Linked DNA regions of Homo sapiens. The protein of the gene in region 3 purifies or fractionates together with the protein of the main gene of each other region. This does not show direct contact. Each region holds a gene or a part of one and is shown on either strand. Other genes may lie near its edges. The genes, in order: UBASH3B, CENPF and CCDC33.

Region 1 (7,107 bases), on a different chromosome or scaffold from region 3:
GACAGAGCCCTTCTTGTCTTGTCTTTTTTTTTTTTTTTTGAGATGGAGTCTCGCTCTGTCGCCAGGCTGGAGTGCAGTGGTGTGATCTCGGCTCACTGCAACCTCTGCCTCCCGGGTTCAAGCCATTCTCCTGCCTCAGCCTCCCGAGTAGCTGGGAGTACAGGCGCGCACCACCACACCCAGCTAATTTTTGTACTTTTAGTAGAGATGGGGTTTCAACATGTTGGCCAGAATGGTCTCGATCTCTTGACCTCGTGATCCGCCTACCTCAGCCTCCCAAAGTGCTGGGATTACAGGCGTGAGCCACCACACCTGGCCCCTTCTTGTCTTTTCTTTCCCTTCCCTCTGGTGCTAACAAGTGGTAAAGGCTTTAGCTAGGAGATATTTAGAAACAGGACAATACTTTGGCTTCAAGTTTGTGAAAGAGGATTTATTTTATGAATATTAGGTCTTGTTTTAATTTTATTCTGTGCTAACCAAAATCTCAACATGTCATATTTTTAGATACCAGAGATAAATCCCAACACCTCATACTTTAATGCTATCCTCATAAAATCCACTTCTTTAAAAAATTTATTATTATTCTTAATTTAATTTTTAGAGATAGGGTTTTGCTCTGTCACTCAGGCTGGAGTGCAGGGGTGTGATCATACCTCAGTGCAGCCTCGAACTCCAGGTCTCAAGCAATCCTCTTGCCTCAGCCTCTCAAAGTGCTAGATTATAGGTGAGAGCCATCACGCCTGGCCTGGAATCCAGTTATTTTGTCTACTGGATTAAATCCAAACACCTTAATATGGTGGCCAAGGTCTTCCATGAACTTGCCTTTATCCATCTTGCTAGCCTCATCTCTGCCTTGCCTCACAATTTATACTCTAGACACAAGACACTTTGTTTCCCCTGCATTCCTGAGGCTGTTTCTCAAGCCTAAGACTCTTTATGTGGTCCCTCCCACTGAGAATGCCATTTCCTCACTCCTATTCCTTCTTTGCCCAGCTAACTTCTACTTCAGCTCTCAGCTCACCTCTTCACTCTTAGATGTCTTTTTGTGTTCCCATAATATTCTGTGACCATGCATAGCTCTATGCATATCACTATGTCTGGATGCATGCAATCAATACATACACATTAGTGCATAGCTCTATGTATATCATATTGTATGATATTTATCCACACATAAGTTTGTTTCCCTGACTCACACTTGGGTTCCCCTAGTCCAATACCTTGCACAAAGTAAGTGAGCACTAAATATCTGCTAAGTGACTGAACAGAAAATACTATCTCCCCGTGCCAGTAATGGAATGGGCTTGCAAAGAGCTAGGCATCTTCAAAGGATCAGTTGGCCTTTACAAATTCAGCAAGTCCAGGGTCCATCTTCTTCACTCTTGTCCTCTTCCACAGCCATGTTTGGCAGATGCTGCTGTCTTGAACTAGAAGCTGACCTGTCTGCTACATCCAAGAGTGAGCACAGTAACCCACGCCATTACTGGATCACGTGCTCCTCAATAAGGACCACACCTCATTCACTTTGGTCAACCAACCCAGGGCTGAGCACAGTGTCCTAAACTTAATGGTTGTGTAGTAAGTTCCTTTTGAATTGAGGAAACTTGTAGGAAAGTTATAGAAACCCACAGGAAGTGTCTTGCATATCCATGGTACCAGTGTTTTGAAGGAGGAGGCAAGAAATGCCTGGAGTGCAGTCACTCCAGGATACTTACCCACTAGTCTTGCTTGCATGCATCCAAACACAGTGATGGGAGCATCTTTCTCGTAATCTCGGAAACCACCACTCCGCTGAGGTAAACTATGAGGCATGTTCAGGTTGGTGCGTATGTAGCGGCCTGAAAAACAAAGAGGTTAGACAGAGGATACATACATTTCTTGTTTACTTGGGACTCCCTTACTGATCCTGACACTCTCCACCCCCATTCCTTCTTGGCCAAAGAGATCACACTGAGCTCTCTGGAGCTGATAGAAAATATCAAGGCTGACATTTTGTTTCATAAAGTGACTTGGAATCCACTTTTCCATTCTACTGACAAAAGTGACATGAGGTAGTTTCTCAGTGAAGGTAATAACCAGGCACTTTAAAGCAGGTGAGATTCCCTGGTTAAGCAAGCCTCTGTATCTTCAAATGCTACTCAAATGAAAATGGAACCGAGCGAGCCAGGGAGATTTAATGGCAGGAACTCTGGCCATAGGATCAGGGCACGTTTCTGCTGCTGACTTTGCCATATGACCTGGGGCAAGACATCTGTCTTCTTTGGTCCGTGGTATCCCAGTTTATAGAATGGGGACAAGAACACTTACTTCTTCTCTAAAGCTCAAGACAATCAGGAGGGGCTTACACATGACAGACATCTTCTATAGTACGCAAAACTATGAATGACTCCATCTAGATAACTGTAGCTTGACTGTGCCGCCTAGAGGCCACTATGGGTATGGCAGTGCTGAGCAGGCCCACCACCAACTCACCTTTGGCATCGAAGCACTGGGACAGCCAGTACTTCCCAAACACAACATCCATCCTCTCACCATGCCGACACACAAAAAGGCATCGCTTCTGGGGGCCGGGCTGGCTGTTGACCCTCAGCGGCTGCAGAGAAAGAAAGGCTATTAGTGAAGACACACATGGCAAAGTGGACATGTCTTGGAGCCAGGTGCCAGGTGAGCTGAGCTCTACTACCAAAGTTCTGCCAAGGTATGACTTGGTGAGGACAGTAAGACTCGTCCTACAGACCTCATAAGTTATTTGGAGGCTGGAATAAGATAAACTGCATGTGCTTTATAAAATAGGAAGGGTTATGAAAAGGGCATTATTGTTGCTACGGCTGCTCTTTGTAGGAGTAGCATTTGGCCATTAAAGTGGCCACTAAAATATGACGTCCACTTTAAGTTACAGCTCAGAGGTAAAACTAGCCATTCATGTAGAGAGAGCCATCTAGTGGGGCACCTTCCCCCCAAAAAGGGGCAATTCATCAACTTCTTCAGGGAGTGAGGACTTCTGTGATCACAAATGTGTCTACCTCTTCTCTAAAGTGTGTGGACAGACCACATGGTCCTCATGGTCTGCTCCAGTAATGAGACCCTGTTTTCCTATTCTAATCACTATGTAGCCTCTGCTGTCTGACTATATATATGATCCCCAAAATGAGACAACTGCTACCTCTGGGTGATGACATAGGCAAATCTAGTCAAAGGCTTGTCCAAATGACTTTGGCTTCTATAACTGCTGGATGGAACCTTACAGCTGTTTCTGCATTCCGTCTTTCTGATGCAGTCAGCTTTTCCAGTTTCCTTAGCGCGGGCCAGCACTTCACATTTGCTTCTAGTTGCCCTGACGTGGTTAATATGTGGAACGGTGGCATGATCCTTCCCATCTCTTTTCCTGTTGTTCCTTAATTTAAATCCTGGGCTCCAGCCACAATGGTTACTCTCTTGATCCTCAACATGCTTGAACTTTCAGCTTGCCTCTATTTGTACTGTTCAACAACGACTCCCTGCCTCCTTCCATCTCCAACCTTCCTTGAAAAAGTTAACACATACTGAGCACTCATTATATGCCAGTTATGGTGCTAAGAGCCTAATTTTATTATTTTCTTTAATCTTTGTAACAACCTACAAAACAGATACAACTATGGGCATTATTCCTACTTTAGAGATAAACTCTCCTCCTATCTCTGTGGAACAACGTTCCTTATGAACCTAGGTTCAAATGCTGGAAGTAACTGTCAGTACTGCTCATCTGACTCTTCCTAGCCTTGAATTTTTGTATATCTTTTATAATTTGGTGTACTTTCTTCCCAAGAGATCGTGGAAGCTTTGGAGACAGCAAGGGCAAGGCCTCATGCTTAATAAATAGGTTCTCAGTGAATCCTGGTTAGAGTTGGGGGTGTGACCCTAGCAATCAGCCTTACCTGCATGGGCTGGCAGATGATAGTAAGAGGAGTCGTCTCCCCGAGCCCCTGGTCCTCATAAGGCCGCCTCTCCAATACTCCATCCCCAAACGTGAGAGAGTTGGATGACGATGTATTTAAGATTGAATAAGAACTGCAGAGGAAGATAAGGAAGGTGTTAACTGCTCTGGCCAGCAGTCATCAGCACTTCCTCCTGGGCTCAACAGGAGTGTGGGAGTTAACTCAAAGCCCTCTGTGGGTAGCACAATGATGGGGGATGCTGAGCAGGAGTGGCCTCATTCCTAAGGGAAAAATACCTTGTTTTATACTGAAGTCTTGCAGTTAATAAATTAGAGGTAGGCCGGGTGTGGTGATCACACCTGCACTTTGGGACGCCGAGGCAGGCGGATCACCTGAGGTCAGGAGTTTGAGACCAGCCTGGCCAATGTGGCGAAATCCCATCTCTACTAAAAATACAAAAAATCAGCTGGGCGTGGTTGTGCGTGCCTGTAGTCCCAGCTGCTAGGGAGGCTGAGGTATGAGAATCTCTTGAACCTGGGAGGTGGAGGTTGTAGTGAGCCAAGATCGCACCACTGCACTCCAGCCCGGGCGATACGGCGAAACCCCGTCTCAAAAAGAAATAAGAATAAAAATAAGTAAATAAATAAATTAGAGGTAGATGGATTTCTGCACTGAGGACAGATATATTCATTCCTTTGGGCAGGGATGGATCCTAGTGATTTTGTGCCATGCATGGTTGGCACCAAAGACAAGTTCAAGAATAACAACGTATCAATGATCTGTTTGCAGCTATTTTTCTGGTTCAAAAGAAATCTACGATCCCTGTTGCCTTTAATATTTCCCGTGGTAATTTCCATCTGAAGTGAAGAGTGATGGGGGGTATTTTCACCATCTCCACCTCAGCCAGTGGCTCCTAACAGTCAAGGAAACTTTGTGCCAAAGTCCCCTATTCTACCCTCTTCGGTCTCCAAACCCTATCTCCCCCTCAATCACGCCTCCAACAAGATGATTACAAATAGAATTATTTCAGAGAAGACCATTCTCACCAGACGTTTAGAGCTGTGAGCCAAGAACTGTCATTTCTGAGTGTAACACTATAGCTACAGAAGCCTAAAAGAGGTCTTGCTGAAAGGAAGACAGTCAAAACCTGCCAAGCTTAAATTATTGTCAATAGTTAAGACTTCCACAAAGCTTTATCTAATAAACATTGCAATGTAAATATGGTTGTTAGGCAAATCCAGTGAACATCTTTGGAATCACTGAGCAGAGTCCAGGGGAAACATTTAAATTTTATAGATTTCTTGCTTCTTTACAATTTGGGTAGCCATCCATCCCAGTTTGCTCCATATACTCCTGGCTTGCATCTGTTGATGAGGCAACCCGTTTAGGCTACCACCTGTTCTGGATTATTCACTTTTAACATTGTATTATCAGAATTTTATTTTATTTTAGAGACGGAGTATTGCTCTTGTCGCCCAGGCTGAAGGGCAATGACATGATCTGGGCTCACTGCAACCTCCACCCTGCAGGTTCAAGCGATTTTCCTGCCTCAGCCTCTGGAGTAGCTGGGATTACAGGCGTGCGTCACCACGCCCGGCTAATTTTTGTATTTTTAGTAGAGATGGGGTTTCACCATGTTGGCCAGGCTGGTCTCAAACTCCTGACCTCAGGTGATCTGCCTGCTTGGCCTCCCAAAGTCATGCTGGGATTACAGGAGTGAGCCACTGCACCTGGCCCATAATTTTATTTTTGAAAATACCTTTTTATATTCACCAATATAATACAGCAAACTGGTTGTTAGTAAATTTTTGTTCCTTCACTTTCAGAAGTGGCTCCTTTTTCACTAGAAGTGATAGACTCATTCTATCTACTTATAAACGAAGTCTCAGAAGTCTCATGCCCTGAAAAACTGATTTTGAACCCTTGTGCATATCAGAATCACCAGGAGACTTAAAAAAAATACACTCGTGCTGGGGTTCTGCTCCTCACACATTGTGACTCAGTAGGTCAGGGGTGGGACCCAGGAACCTACAGTTCAACAAAGCAGCATCAGTCCATCTGCGTATGTTGCCAAGTGAAACCTGTTACAGTAAAATTTAAGTAACTGTAGCCCAAGGAAATCTTGTGCCGTTCACACAGTATAATAGACCAGCTATTCTACTTTATTTTAAACTAAGACCCTCCCAAACATCACACAGTTCAAGAAAATCCAGTTTGGCTGGGCACAGCGGCTCACGTCTGTAATTCTAGCACTTTGAGAGGCCGAGGCAGGCAGATCACCTGGGGTTAGGAGTTCAAGACCAGCCTGGCCAACGTGGTGAAACCCCGTCTCTATTCAAAATACAAAAATTAGCTGGGCGTGGTGGCACACACCTGTAGTCCTGGCTACTCGGGGGGCTGAGGCAGGAGAATCACTGGAACCCAGAAGGCAGAGGTTACAGTGAGCTAACATTGCACCACTGTGCTCCAGCCTGGGCAACAGAGTGAGACTCCATCTCAGAAAAAATTAAAAAAAAAAAAAAGAAAAAAAAAAAGAAAATCCAGTTTTATTGTCTGACTCATCAAAGCTTCAGGGTGCAAAATGTCTGGCTACCTAGAATCGTTCTTGTACATATCTGTTTGTTTCTTTATCGCAGCTGTGAAGATACTGATAGGATCCCTTCTCTCCCTCCTTCGTCTCCCATGGCAAGACGAATGCCAGCCTCTTTCCCTTCTTAACTGTCATTATAATCAAAGGACCTGACTCACTCTGAGACAGCGTGGAGCTGCCAGTTCCAGTAAGAAAACAGTCAGATGCTTCTTGCTCAGAACAGTGGAGGGAGGAAGCCGGGCCTGACATCCAGAACATCTCAAGCATCGGGAGAGCTGGCTTCTCCCTGCAACACACCAGGCCTGTGCTAAGCCCAAGCGGCCAGGCAGCTCACCCAGCTTCATCAACTTGTCTTGGTTCATAACTCAGAACCAAGTAAGACACTCCAGTTAGTGTGGAGAGAACATATTTCCTTAGGAGGGACTCAGAGAACTGAGAAGCACTTGGCAGGGAGTGTTGTCAAAATCATTGACCCCCAGTCATGACTTGTTGCCTGGATCCCCTGGGCAACTCCCACCATGCCAGCCAGGCCATGCTTGACATCCCCCTGGGGCTCTACCTCCTGATGTCTCTCTTGGGTTAGGAGAGAGAGAAGGTCTGTGT
Region 2 (7,107 bases), on a different chromosome or scaffold from region 3:
ACTCAGCCAAGTCAGTGGGTCAGGCCCAGGCTCCACACCAGTCCCGAGGGCCACCCCCAGCCCTCAACACCGCGGCGGTGGGCGAAGCCAGCGGCCCCACCCCGTTCCCTGGCGCTGCCGTTCCCTGGCGTTTCCTAGCTAGGATCTGTAGGGATCCCGCCTACGGAGTGGCCCTGGGGCGGAGGTAGGGGAGGCCCTGGCGCCTCTCCTCCTGATCACCCCTAGGTGCACACTGGGAACTGTGTGCCCCCCACATCCTGAATGCTTCACGCCTTCCTGCCCGGGTTAGAAAGCCGTTCCTGGTGCACTGGCCAGGACAGCGGACACTCTTCCTCCCTGCAGCCCTTGCCCACCCCCTTGGCCATGAGGAATTCAGGCAGCTGTGTCCCCAAATGTCTCCACCCAATTTTGGACTCTCGGAGTCCCCACGCCCAATGAGATGCCAGTGCAACCCAGGTCAGCATCGAGGGTCGTGGCTGCGGAGGTGGCACCCCCTCCCACCAGCACCTTCCCTTGGGAGTGGACAAGTCCTCGGCCACCTCAGCATCACCAGCTCCCACCCAGGGCCACCCCCACCCCCAGGTCACTGGTGTGCAGCCCGTGACCCAGCTGATCCAGCACCAGTTACAAGGCCTCCTCGTGCCCAGTCCCAACCACGCGGGACCCACCTGCCACCCTGCCCATGCCGGGACCCCACAACTCTCCTCCCACACGCTCCAGGCTCTGATCCCAGGCAGATGCCCTCTTGCAAGGCAGGAGCATGGGCAGGTGTGCGTCCCCTCTGCCTGGCATTCGGACTCCACCAGCAGGGCTGTCCCCCTCCCTGGCCTGGAATCCCAGCCTCCTGGCAGCACTCCACAGCTCGCCACTCACCCATGCCCCAAAGGATGCTGCCTGGCTTGTGCCTGTGGCCCCAGCTCTGCCTTAGCCTCCCTGGCCTGCTCCCTGGCAGCCATGGTCAGTAGTGTGCTGAGCCAGCCCAGCCCTGTCACCTGCTACCAGGCAGGAGCCCCCAGCTGCCACCTGGATGTCACCACTCAAACGAACAGGACACATCCCCAGTGGAGGCCCTGGGCATGCTCTGGCCTCCCCCTCACAGCTCTGGGCCTAGGTTCCTGCAGGACAAAGTGGCAGCAGGACAGATGGCCGAGCAGACAGAGCTCAGAGCTGGCCATGGCGGGTGTGACTCTGCCAGTGGCCCAGGCAGTAGAGACAGGAGGGGCCGAGGAAGTCGCATGAAGTGGTTGGTGTCAGCGCCCCACACTGCTGGGAGGCCCCTGGAGCCAGGGTGGTGCCAGGGGACCAGCTCCCAGGCCCACAGCAGGGACTGCCTGCAATATCACCAAGGCAACGAGGACCCCACCTCCCCAGGGCCTCTGACTTCTCAGAGCTATGCCTGGTCCCTGCGGGAGCAGGTCAGACCAGTGGGCTGGGCAGGGCCAGGACGAGACAGCCCCAGTGGATGGCGAGCAGGAAAGGTCACCAGAGGCCCACCCGGGTCTCCTCATCCAAAGCAGCACTGGCCCGGGCGGTGCTCAAACACCAGTGAAGGCCCCAGGCAAGCGCAGGGCTGGGGACCTGGATGACTAGGAGGGCTGGATCTGGAATGGAGGCTGGCCCAGACCTTGGATGTGTGCTGGGGGTCTGCACCTGACCCTGCAGGCCCTGCCCCAGGATGGCCAAGCTCCGCAGCCACAGGGCCTCATGGGCCAGGCCTCGGGACCTGGATGCAGCAGCCTCGCCTCACTTGGCCCCAAGTGCTGCCTCGGCCGATGGGGCCCCAGCCACACGTGCACAGACCCCCAGACACCACCCACTCCCTCCCGCCGGGTGGCATCCACGCCCCTGTGACAAGCTCAGCCCCTTCCCGTCCTCAGGCCAGGGGTTCCCAGGGAGCCTGGCTCCACAGGCCAGGGTGTGGAAGGACCGCCTGGCCACACCTCAGCCATGTGGAGGCTGCACCTGCACACCCAAGCTCGCCTGTCCGGCTCTCTGGCCCTGTGCATCCACTGTGGCTCCCCTCCTGCAGAGCCGCCCACCTTCCTCCCAGGGAAGCCCGCCCCCCGGCCCCCGGCCTGGTCCCCTCTTGGGTGTGCCCAGGCTGAGCTGCCCCCAGGGTTGCCCTCACCTGGTGCGCAGGGCCTGCCAGGCGGCGTCGATGTCGGCATAGAGGTTCCTCTCGGAAGGCCTACCCGAGCTGGCACCGTAGCCGGAGTAGTCGTAGGAGAAGATGTTGCAATGGAGGCGGGAGCCCAGGCCAATGTAGAAGCTGCTCATCTGGCCCAGGTCCACGGCATTGCTGTGCGAGAAGAGGACCGTGTACCTGGCACCAGTCACGCAGCGAACATACATGCAGGAGACGCGGTTGCGGCGGGCGCTCTTGGTGGGGAAGACCTCAATGGTGTCCAGCTCGCGCTGGCTGTACTGGAAGTCGGCGCGCTCCGTCAGGTGCAGCTTCCAGCGCCCGGGTGCGCCCGAGGAGGCCCGCAGGGTCCCCAAGGGGGCGGCCCCGGCCCCACCAGGCCCCGGCTCGGGCTCAGTCACCAAGGAATAGGTGGCCTCCGGCGGCAGGAAGGCGAGCTTGGCAGCGATGCGGCCGGGGCAGGGCGGGCAGCAGAAGAGGCAGCAGAGCTCACTCAGCGACAGCCCGTTCATGGCGGGCGCCGCCCGGGCCAGGCCCCCACCGGGGCCCCAGCCAACAACGCCGCCCGGCCTGGCCCGGCAGGGGAGGGGTGGGGGTGCTCCGAGTCGCGGGCAGGGGGGAGGGCGCCCCCCCAGCTACGGCCCCAGACGGCAGCCCCGTTAGGAGGCCAGGGCCCAGCCCCATCGCGGTCCAAGCCGAGCCCCAGGGAGCCTCGCAACCACAGGTCTCCATGTCACGCCGTGGGAAGCCCACCCCGGCCCGCGCCCCTGGGCCCCAGGGCCGCACTCCATGGCGCCTGGCCGCCTGCCCGTGCGTCCGTCGGTCCCTCCGCGCCCCGGCCGGCCTCCTGCATCGCCACCGCCGCAGCTCCCCCCGAAGAATCCGCTTTGAATCTCTAAGGTTGTACTGTATATGTCTTTCCTGGTCAGTGTCTGTCTGGAGCATGACTTTACCACCTTTTGCAGTGATTCTAGTACTAATACGGCATTCACTCTTCATTCATGCATGCATTCATTATTAAAAAATGATAACTGCTTGGAAGGAGATGGGCTACCTGTGCTGTGAGTAACTATGATGGGAAACTATGGCCGGGTCAGGGATCTCAGAAAAGTTTCCCAGAGGAAGAGGGACAAAGTGTGAGTGGTAATTAACCATGTGAAGAGGGAAAGAGGAGCATATGCAGAATATCTTGTCATGCATTTTCTTTGTTTATAGGACCTATTTCACCTGAAAACCTTATGGCAAAATATTATTTTTTTCTTAGCTTTTATTTTTGGTTCAGGGGTACACATGCAGGTTTGTTTTACAGGTAGACTCATGTCATGGGGGATTGTTGTACAGATTATTTTGTTGCCCAGGTACTAAGCCTAATACTCAATAGTTATTTTTTCTTCTGCTCTTCCTCCTCCAACTCTCCACCCTCAAGGAGGCCTCAGTGTCTGTTGTTCCCTTCTTTGTGTTCATTTGGTTTTCTGTTCTTGCATTAGTTTGCTAAGGATAATGGCCTCTAATTCCATCCATGTTCCTGCAAAAAACCATGATCTCATTCTTTTTTATGGCTGCATAGTATTCCATGGTATATGTGTACTACATTTTGTTTATCCAATCTGTCACTGATGGGCATTTAGATTGATTGCATGTCTTTGCTATTGTGAACAGTGCTGCAATGAACATTTGTGTGTGCATGTGCCTTTTTTTTTTTTTTTTTTGGTAGATAAGGGATTTTGCCATGTTGCCCAGGCTGGTCTCGAACTCCTGAGCTCAAGTTATCCACCTGCCTTGGCCTCCCAAAGTGTTGGGATTACAGGCATGAGCCACTGTGCCTGGCCATGCATGTGTCTTTATGGCTGAATGATTTATATTCCTCTGGGTATATACCCAGGAATGAGATTGCTGGGTTGAATGGTAGTTCTGTTTTTAGCTCTTTGAGGAATTGCCATACTGCTTTCCACAATGGTTGAACTAATTTGCACTCCCACCAAAAGTGTATAAGTGTTCCCTTCTCAACTTGGCCAGCATCTGTTATTTTTTAACTTTTTAATCATAGCCATTCTGACTGGTGTGAGATGGTATTTCATTGTGGTTTTAATTTGCATTTCTCTAATGATAGTGATATTGAGCTTTTTTTCATATGCTTGTTAGCCACATGTATTTTTTTTTTTTTTTTAGAAAAGTGTTCATGTCCTTTGCCTACTTTTTAATGGGGTTGTTGTTTTTCTCTTGTAAATTTAAGTTCCTTATAGATGCTGGATATTAGACCTTTATCAGATGCATAGTTTGTAAATATTTTCTCCCATTCTTTAGGTTGTCTTTTTACTCTGTTGAGTTTCTTTTGCTGTGCAGAAGCTCTTCAGTTTAATTAGATCTCATTTGTCAATTTTTGCTTTTGTTGTGATTGCTCTTAGTGTCTTTGTCATGAAATATTTGCCCATTCCTGTGTCCGGGATGGTATTGCCTAGGTTGTCTTCTGTGGTTTTTATAGTTTGGGGTTTTACATTTAAGTCTTTAATCCATCTTGAATTAATTTTTGTATATGGTGTAAGGAGGGGGTCCAGTTTCATTCTTCTGCATATGGCTAGCCAGCTATCTCATCATTTATTGAATAGGGAATCCTTTCCCCATTGTTTGTTTTTGTCAGCTTTGTCAAAGATCAGATGGTTGTAGGTGTGCGGCTTATTTCTGGGCTCTCTATTATGTTCCATTGGTCTATGTGTCTGATTTTGTACTAGTACCATGCTGTTTTGGTTACTGTAGCCCTGTAGTATAGTTTGAAGTAGGGTAACATGTTGCTGTCAGCTTTGTTCTTTTTGCTTAGGCTTGTCTTGGCTATTTGGGCTTATTTTTGGTTCCATATCAATTTTAAAATAGTTTTTTCTAGTTCTGTGAACAATGTCTTTGGTAGTTTGATAGGAATAGCATTGAATATGCAAATTGCTTTGGGCAGTATGGCCATTTCAATGATACTGATTCTTCATATTCATGAGCATGGGATGTTTTTCCATTTGTGTCACTCTGATTTCTTTGAGCAGTGTTTTCTAATTCTTTTTTTTTTTGAGATGGAGTTTCGCTCTTTGTTGCCCAGGATGGAGTGCAGTGGTGCGATCTCAGCTCACTGCAACCTCTGCCTCCCAAGTTCAAGTGATTCTCCTGTCTCAGCCTCCTGAGTAGCTGGGATTACAGGCGTCTGCCACCACACCCAGCTAATCTTTGTATTTTTAGTAGAGATGGGGTTTCACCATGTTGGCCAGGCTGGTCTTGAACTCCTGACCTCAGGTGATCTGCCCGCCTCAGCCTCCCAAAGTGCTGGGATTACAGGCGTGAGCCACTGAGCCCAGCCTTCTAATTCTTATTGTACAGATCTTTCACCTCCCTGGTTAGCTGTATTTCTAGGTGATTTATTCATATTGTGGCAATCGTGAATGAGATTGCATTTTTGATTTGGATCTTGGCTTGGCTGTTGTCAGTGTATAGGAATGCTAGTGATTTTTGTATATTGATTTTCGTATCCTGAGAGTTGGCTGAAGTTGTTTATCAACTGAAGGAGCTTTTGGGCCAAGACTATGGGGTTTTCTAGATGTAGGATCATGTTGTCTGCAAACAGGGGTAGTTTGACTTCCTCTCTTCCTATTTGGATGCCTTTTATTTCTTCCTCTTGCCTGGTTGCTCTGGCCAGGACTTCCAATAGTATGTTGAATAGGAGTAGTGGAAGAGGGCCTCCTTGCCAGTTTTCAAGGGGGGAATGCTTTCAGCTTTTGCCCATTCAGTATGATGTTGGCTGTGGGTTTGTCATAGATGGCTCTTATTATTTTGAGGTATGTTCCTTCAATACCTAATTTATTGAGAGTTTTTAACGTGAAGGGATGTTGAATTTTTAATGAAAGCTTTTCTGCATGAGATAATCATGTCATTTTTGTCTTTAGTTATGCTTATGTGATGAATCATATTTATTGATTTGCGTATGTTGAACCAACCGTAAATCCTGGCGATGAAGCCTACTTGATTATGGTGGATTAGCTTTTTGATGTGTTGCTGGACTTGGTTTGCAAGTATATTTTTGAGGAATTTTGCATCGTTGATCAAGGATATTGGCTTGAAGTTTTCTTTTTTTGTTGGGTCTCTGCCAGGTTTTGGTATCAGGATGATGCTGGCCTCATAGAATGAGTTGAGGAGGCGTCCCTCCTCCTTAATTTTTTTGGAAACCAGGGGTACAGACAAAGTACCCTGTACACCCAACAGTAATCCCACAGGAGAAGGCAGAGGCCCCAGGCCATTTAATCAGCAGCAAGGTGATTATGTGATATGTCTTTTCACAGTTGAGTTAGATGTACTCCACCAGTTATGATGGGAATCAATTTAAATATACTTTCTTGATCCCAGAAATTCAAGTATGTGGACAGGATGTTACACATGGCAGGATGATTGTTACAGCGCAACTAACATATTTCAAATGGACAAAAAATTAGTATAATTTACAGTATCTTAAGATAAATTTCCTTTGAATGGGAGCTTCCTTTCTAGTCCTTTGAGGTCTACAAGGCATATCTAGAAAATTTACTACTGTGGAAGATGAAGACTGTTTAAATTGAATGGGGGGCAGGAAGGGGAAGGGCCTATGGTTTTTCTTTTTGATTAACTGCTGTAACCCTGTCCTTCAGGCAGCTGAAGGAGTGTCACATTTTCTTTAGACATCATTAGGCACCAAAGCTCTTGTAGGACAACTTTGATGCTACATGAATTCTGCCATTTTGCTAGCACTGATATGGCTTTTTGGTCCACCACTCCATTACAACTATTAACCCTATTTATATTAATTTTTGTTACAAATCTTACAAAGGCAGGGTGCTTCTGGGCATTTAGGATACATTCTATTTTAAGGCTGTATACTTGATTTTCGTAAATCATTCTTGGAGGCCCAATTATCATCCCTGTCCATCTTGTCCCAGGTCTTCATCATCTTCTAAACA
Region 3 (7,107 bases):
AGTGAAGCGCAGATCATGAGAAGAGACCAATCTGGCTATTCCCCTGAACCCAGCCATGTTCTGTGCGTGCACCCGCCCCCAACCTCATACTCAAACACACAGCCCTCCTGTCTGCCCTGACATGGGTCATAGCCTGCCTGTCTCCACCTCACACTTGTGCTATTGCTGTGTCCAACCTGTACCAACCCTTCCTCTGTTAAAAATTCAAGACTGCCGGCTGAGTGCAGTGGCTCATGCCTGTAATTCCAGCACTTTGGGAGGCCGAGGTGGACAGGTCACAAGGTCAGGAGTTTGAGACCAGCCTGGCCAACATGGTGAAACTCCATCTCTACTGAAAATACAAAAATTAGCCGGGCATGGTGGCGGGTGCCAGTAATCCCAGCTACCTGGGAGGCTGAGGCAGGAGAATTGCTTGAACCTGGGAGGCGGAGGTTGCTAGTGAGCCAAGATGGTGCCACTGCACTCCAGCCTGGGCAACAAGAGCAAGACTCTGTCTCAAAAAAAAAAAAAAAAATTCAAGACTGCCTTCCCTAATCCAGGCTTTACATCCCTCTCCTCTGATTAAAAAAAATTTTTCGCTGGGCGCAGTGACTCATGCCTGTAATCCCAGCCTTTTGGGAGGCCAAAGCGGGTGGATCACCTGAGGTCAGGAGTTCGAGACCAGCCTGGCCGACATGGTGAAACCCTGTCTCTACTAAAAGGATAAAAATTAGCCAGGCATGGTGGCATGTGCCTATAAGCCCAGCTACTCGAGAGGCTGAGGCAGGAGAATTGCTTGAACCCGGGAGGCAGAGGTTGCAGTGAGCCAAGACTGCGCCACTGCACTCCAGCCTGGGAGACAAGAGCGAGGCTCTGTCTCAAAAAAAATTTTTTTACTGGGTTAAAATATACGTAACACAACATTCACCATTGTAGCCATTTTTAATGTACAGTTCGGTAATGTTAAATGCATTCATTTGTTCGTATTGTTGTGTAACCATCACCACTATCTATTTCCAGGACTTTTCATCACTTGAAACGGAAACTAGGTACTTATGACCTGTAACTCCCCATTCTTCCCTTTCCCCAGCCCCTGTAGCCACTGTTCTACATTCTGACTCTGAATTTTCCTATTCTAGGTATCCCATATAAGTGGAATCATATATTTGTCCTTTTGTATCTTCTCCTCTGATGTGATAGCCCTGACAGGCCCTCCCAGTTTGTTATTAGATTATACATTATCTTGTGTTGATGTTCAACTTTTTCACCCACGTGACTCCCATCTTCACCAGACCAAGAGTTCCTGGAGGGCAGTTTCTCTGCCGCACAGGCGAGCACAGCACTGGGTATGCCGTGGGATTCAGTCAACTCTTACTCGATAGTCAAGGGAACTGCTGACTGACTCACTGAGTGAGTGAACAGTGAATGTGTGGGGTAGTTACAGGAAGCTGGAACCACTGGGGAGGAGACATACCTGAGGGCATCCGTTCTGGCTGACGCGAGGCACGTCAAAGTTCATCATGGACGGGATAGGGAAGGACAGTGGGGTGATGGGCAGCCCCACAGAGGCCAGGTCCCTGTTAGCCTGGCTGACCCTGGGGAGGCAGGGAGACAGGGTCAGTGCTCTGGGCTCTGCACCTGAGCCTGGCAGCCCAGGGCCCCCCGCTTAGACTCTGGGTTGATGCAAGAGAAGGGAGTTGCAGGGATCCCGCCGAGTTCGGGCCTGGACCTCACGACAAGTGGGGACCACTGGGCTGGGCGTGCATCAATCATCTTCCTTCCTCCAACAAGCAAGGGGGCTTCATAAGTCATAAAAACTCAACAGGAGATACAGAGAAGTAGGGGAGTCATCTTGGGCCATCAGGGCCAGTTGGAAGTGACCAAGACAGACCCTGACTCCCAGGAGTCGGTGCTGTGGCAGAGAGCACACGTTCATAGGGGAATTTCCCACTGTGTGGCAAAGTATGAATCTCCTCTTGAGGACTGTGACTCCAACAGACTCAAAAGGAGGTCTAGGGGAGGAGGGGATGAGTTGTGGCTGGGACCAGGGAGACCTCCAGGATGAGGAGGGAGGAGACTCCGCCCGGCAGGGCTAAAGGCTGTGAAGTTCCAAGATGGCCTTTGGGGCCAACCACTGGCTGGAGCCTGTGGCCCTGAGCTAGAGTGGGAGGGGGAGTGGGGAGGTGGTGGGTGTGAGGCAGGGAGGCAGGTTGGAGGGGCTGAGGTTCCCTGAGCAGGGAATGAGGACCCCTCTTGTTGTCCTCCCCACACTCTCTAGCTGTTAGGCCTGGTATCGGCACTCATCCCCACCACCTGCCCTCCAGCTTGCTCTCAGGAGAGGACTGAGCTGCCCCTTTCCAGGGGCCTGGGCTCTCCCTGGGGAAAGAAAGGCATGGTCTGCTGCAGGAAGCTTACTGGGACCTCAGACCCAATGGAGAGGCTTGAAGGGCCTTAGGGGTAGAGGGGTTGCCGGAGGTCCTGGAATCAGCCCATGGCAGCAATGACAGCCTCACCCCCTCCTCTGCCCTCTGCTCTGCCCTCCTCACCCAGGTCCACCTGGGCCCCACTCACTTAAATTCCTTGTAGTTGGGAACGACCCGGGCAATCACCACTATGGGGTTGGGGTTGTTGGCCAGGGGCTCGTTGACTCCCCGGAGAAAGATCTGGAGAGGAGAGGAGAGGAGGCAGGTGAACACCATGTGGCCTTGGGACCTTCCAGAGACAGCCAGCCAGACTGCCTACCCTCTTTTTCCCCATCCGTGAGCTCATGGCTGCCTCCACACTTGACACCTGCTTCTCCCTGTTCCCTGCCTTACTCGGTTCTTGCTTTGCACCAGGCTGCCCTCCCTCAGGAAGCCTTCTCTGCCGAGCTGAGGCAACTGCTCCCGCTTTCTGTCCTGGGATTTACCAATGGATCTCTTACACTAGTTTCTTTGGGGAGAAAGGGTACGATGAGAGTTGGGTCCTGGGAAGGGAGGTTGTGTTCTAACCTCGGCCCCTCCACTGGCTCCTGGGGAGGGGTTGGGCTAGGGGTAGGGCTAGGTGTTCCAGCTCCTTGGTTTCTGTCAGTCAAATGAGGCTCCTCCCAGGGCTGTGAGGGGTCTCTGATTAGATCGTTTGTGAGAGAGCACTTTATAAACTGAAGACAGGAAGCCCAGGTCTGGTTTCTCCGACCATGCTGAACTTCCTGAGATCAGCGGCCACAGCCAGGCTCCCCTTGCCTCCCTCGTGCCCATCACCCTGGTGCCTGCTCCACTGCTCACCCTGGTGCCTGCTCTCCTGCCTTGCTGGTTTCCCCAGGAAGTACTGGTTTGGAACAGGATCATAGCATCCGCATCTCTGGGCTCCTCTTTCTTCATCAGATCCCGGTTGTCACTCCCCTGACCGCCCTTGGTTGTTCCCTCCTCAGTCCTCTGTCACCCCCTAAAGGCTTCCCTGCCTCCCAGTCCTGACTGCCCTCTCCTCTACTCCAGGCTTCTATTGGCGCAGCTTTCAGAGAGCCGAGCGGGGTCCCAGCAGGAGGTTACAAAGCAGGAGTGGACAGCGTCACCTTGCTCCAACCCTCACTGACCCCCTGCTCAGTCTGGGCCTGGGGGACACTGGAAGGCAGACAGGGGAGACAGGGAGTCTGTCCCCATGCGCCTCTGCTGCCAGCCTAAGAGGCCCTGATCTCCCGGACCCTGACCCTCACCCTGTATCCACCAATGGCTCCCACTCTCCCTCAGCCCTCACCCACCTCCCACTCGGCTCTCATTCCTCTTGCTCCTTCGATTCCTCTGCCTCCTCACTAGCCTCTCCACTTCTGTTCCTTTCCCTAATCCATCCTCTTTCCCAGGCAATTTGACACATGATGGCAAAAGTGCTCTTGTTAAAAATGAACTGGGTCACGTTATTCCCTGCCCGACACCCCACAAGCCCCTCTGCCGTGTCTCCCGACAGGCCCCCAGCCCCTGTCTTCTTGCTCCAGACTCTTTTACTCCTGCCACTTACCCCTCTTATTTCTGCCACAGGGTCTTTGCACATGCTGATCCCTCTACTCAGACTCCCTGCAGCTCCCACCAACCCATTGTGGCTGGCGAGGGCCCAGGAGTGAGGCTTGTTCTGGATCATTCTCCCTTTTCTCCCTCCGCACCCTCCTTTCAGGCTCCTCTTTCAATACCCATCTCAGCTGGTTTTCCCACCTCTAACCCCACACAGGTGTGAGCTGATGGGCACGTACAATAGTCCTTAGGGCCTCGCAGCTCTCACTGAGGGCTCTGGAGACTGAATCCCTTCATCACATTCAAAGGATTGAATCTCTGATGGTACATTTCACACTTTGGATGGGTCTGGGGTCTGGGGCTGAGGGATTTCACTGGAGGCTGGCAGGCCCTATTGCTCACAGGCTCCCCAGCAGGTGTAAGACTAAAAAGGGGGTGGTGGCAGCTAATTTGCACCTGTTCTGTGTGGACTCTGATCAGGTGTGAATGAGACAGCTGCCCAAGTACACCTGCTCATGACAGCCTGGGAAGTAGCAGAAGTTCCTGCTCCTGCCATGCGCTCACCATCAGGAGCAGGCAGCTGCTCTGTGGCCATACCTGTCGCACGGATGGAGAGGGCATCTGTGCTGGGGCAGGAGAGTGGGCAGGGTGCTGTGAGCCAGAGAAGGCCCCTACTCTACCGCTCTACCAGGCAAGTCAGAGGGCTGGGTGGGGTGGGGCAGCTCCACAGCAGCCCTAAAGTTCTGCCTGTGTCTTGGGGATGTGGCCTCCTCCCTGTGGGGTGCGGCCTGGGGACAGCAAGGCCAGGCTGTTGCCCCTCTTCCTTGTTCTGTGTGTGTGTGAATTGCTGGCTGTCCTCAGGAAAGGGCGTGATAGAAGGTGGCGGGGAGCAGAGGGCGCCTGTAGGTCTGATATGCTGGCATCAGAGGGGTGGCTGTAGGGGAGTAGAAATGTGGGTTAGGAGTTTTGGCTCCCATACCATACTCCCCTTGGGTCTCAGTGTCCCTGGCTGTGAAAGAAGGCAAAAGAATGCTTCCTTCCCTGCCAGGCCCACGGTGCTGGTGGGAAGTAGGGGGGTGGGAAGGATAGGAACAGATCAGCCATGTTTGGGTAGGTGGAAGCTCAGAGCTTGGGTCCTGTGGCTCCCACCCTGATCATACTCAGGCCATAGCTGAATTTGAATCTGTCACCCATGGGCAGTTTGAAAGTTGGGGGGAATGGGAGAGGGGCCAGGTCCCTGCATCATGTCTGCTTTGAGCATCAAGAGTTCCTCCCAAAGCTGCTAATTGGCCTAGGGGGTGGATGGTGATGGGTCAAGGGGCAGTGGCCAGGCCCAAGGTGGGCTCAGCCCTGTCCTGGCTAATGGAAGAGGCTCTGTAAACAGTTGCTGGATGAATAAATGAATGAATAAACTAAATACCTAATCGCCAGACCAGTCAAACCTCTTTAGACACAGTGCTGAAGGAAAGCTCAAGGAGGCCCTAAACTTTTGCTTGGGGGCCAAGGCACTATCCCAGGAGGGGAAGAATAGAGCAGGAAACTGCTGGGCTGTGGGCTCAGGGGGAGCACGGGGCTTCTCCCCTGCCCCTAGCATAAGATTCGGGGAGACAGGCTCTGGTCCCCACTGCAGCACAGAGACGGTACACCAGGAGCAGCAGTGTGGCTGAGCCCCTCCCCGCCACCTCCAAGACAGAGAGGGAAGGAGAAGAGGCTTGAGCATCTTCATCCTTGTCATCCCTGCCAAAGGGCTTGTCTTCACAACTCCTTTTGCTATTTTGGAAAGGCCTGGTTGCTTTTTCCATTCTTGACATCTCTGCTCCACACCCTCAGGTCAGCCAGAGGGGGCTAAGGGCAAGGCGTGGGGCCTGCTCAAAGCTTGGCCCTTTCCCACCCCCACCACCACCCCAGAGGGCCCCAGCCCTGGTACCTCCAGAGCCATGTGGTTGCAGCCGATGTAGCGGGGTATGAAGCTGCTCTTCCGAACGACTGTTGCGTACAACTGGGTCTTGGCAGTGGCTTCATCGGCTTTCCCAGACTCAGTGGGCTGGAGACAGGGTTGGGGCAGAAGACACAGAGGAAGGAGAGTGTCTAAGGGGCAGATCCTGGCCATAAATCCAGCCCTCTGCAGACAATCACTTGGCATTGCTCCGCTGGGGCTCCGAGCTGATAATTAAAGCTCATGGTCCCTGTGAGCCCTTCCAAGGAGATCAATATAATAAATCTTCCCTTTTCCATTTGAATATTTCATCACCCTCACAAGGACCACTGCCTGTCTGCTTTCCAGTAAAGATGTGATAACAAGGCCTGGGTTGTAAGTGAACAGACAGCCAGGGGGCCTGGGTGATGCCCCCAGAATTACAGCTCAAGTGCTGAGTCTCCCAGGGTGAGTAGCACATCTCTCTTTTACTTCCCTGCATGGCCCATCCTGAAGCCCTGGGATTGGGGTTCCTCATGGGGCCTAAGAGAAGGTAAAGCCCCCTGGTGCCATGATTGAAGAAATGCTTAGAAGAAAGTTCAGTGCTGGCCCGGAGGAGGGATGGGGGAGGGTAACTGACCAAACTGAGCACCTACTGTATGCCAGGAACCTTGCCTATCATTGCTTGAGATCCTCAAAACGACTGTGCCAGCTTTGCCAGTGAGGATGGAGGCCTGGGGACCAAGTGGCTTCCATGGGTATCCAGCTAGGAGGCAACAAACTTGGTCTAGGACCCCCGACAGTCTGGCTTCACATTGTTCTTTACTCTCAACCACTTTCAGGGTCTGGAATGCACAGTGGGGAGGGGAATGTGATGCTTCTGTTCATCTCTGGCTCACTACCTGGCACATAGTAGGTGCTTCATAAGTCCTTGAGCAATGAGAGAGTGAATTCTACCCCTTACCCTTCAGCACTAGGAGGGAGGACAGGCAGGGGTCTGGCCTGGGAGGCCCAACCTTGGAGTGAGGAGCCTCAGGCCCCTCAGTCCATGGCTTGGACCCAGTTGCTCACTCCAGGGGTGCATTCCAGGGAATGCTTTATTCCATGTACCCCCCAACTCTCCTGGGCCTTCTGGCCAAGGCAGCATGTGGAGGCAGCTCAGAAGGAACTGGCTTGGGAGACAGCATGACTTGGGCTCACCCTCAACTCTGCCGCTCACTTGCTCTGTGACCC

What was found.
Region 1: the proteins of CCDC33 (region 3) and UBASH3B purify together in Homo sapiens (affinity purification with mass spectrometry; 2 studies listed by BioGRID and IntAct, with this or other methods). This does not show direct contact.
Region 2: the proteins of CCDC33 (region 3) and CENPF purify together in Homo sapiens (affinity purification with mass spectrometry; 2 studies listed by BioGRID and IntAct, with this or other methods). This does not show direct contact.

Annotation. Positions count from the first base shown.
Region 1 is NC_000011.10:122,791,642-122,798,748, reverse strand, and holds part of UBASH3B (ubiquitin-associated and SH3 domain-containing protein B), read right to left. Parts: intron 4,048-7,107; coding exon 3,915-4,047; intron 2,594-3,914; coding exon 2,473-2,593; intron 1,839-2,472; coding exon 1,716-1,838; intron 1-1,715. UniProt on the Homo sapiens protein: Interferes with CBL-mediated down-regulation and degradation of receptor-type tyrosine kinases. Promotes accumulation of activated target receptors, such as T-cell receptors and EGFR, on the cell surface.
Region 2 is NC_000001.11:214,606,186-214,613,292, forward strand, and holds part of CENPF (centromere protein F), read left to right. Parts: intron 1-2,128; exon of another isoform or gene 2,129-3,018; intron 3,019-3,834; exon of another isoform or gene 3,835-7,107. UniProt on the Homo sapiens protein: Required for kinetochore function and chromosome segregation in mitosis. Required for kinetochore localization of dynein, LIS1, NDE1 and NDEL1.
Region 3 is NC_000015.10:74,267,238-74,274,344, reverse strand, and holds part of CCDC33 (coiled-coil domain-containing protein 33), read right to left. Parts: intron 6,004-7,107; coding exon 5,887-6,003; intron 2,643-5,886; coding exon 2,551-2,642; intron 1,575-2,550; coding exon 1,454-1,574; intron 1-1,453.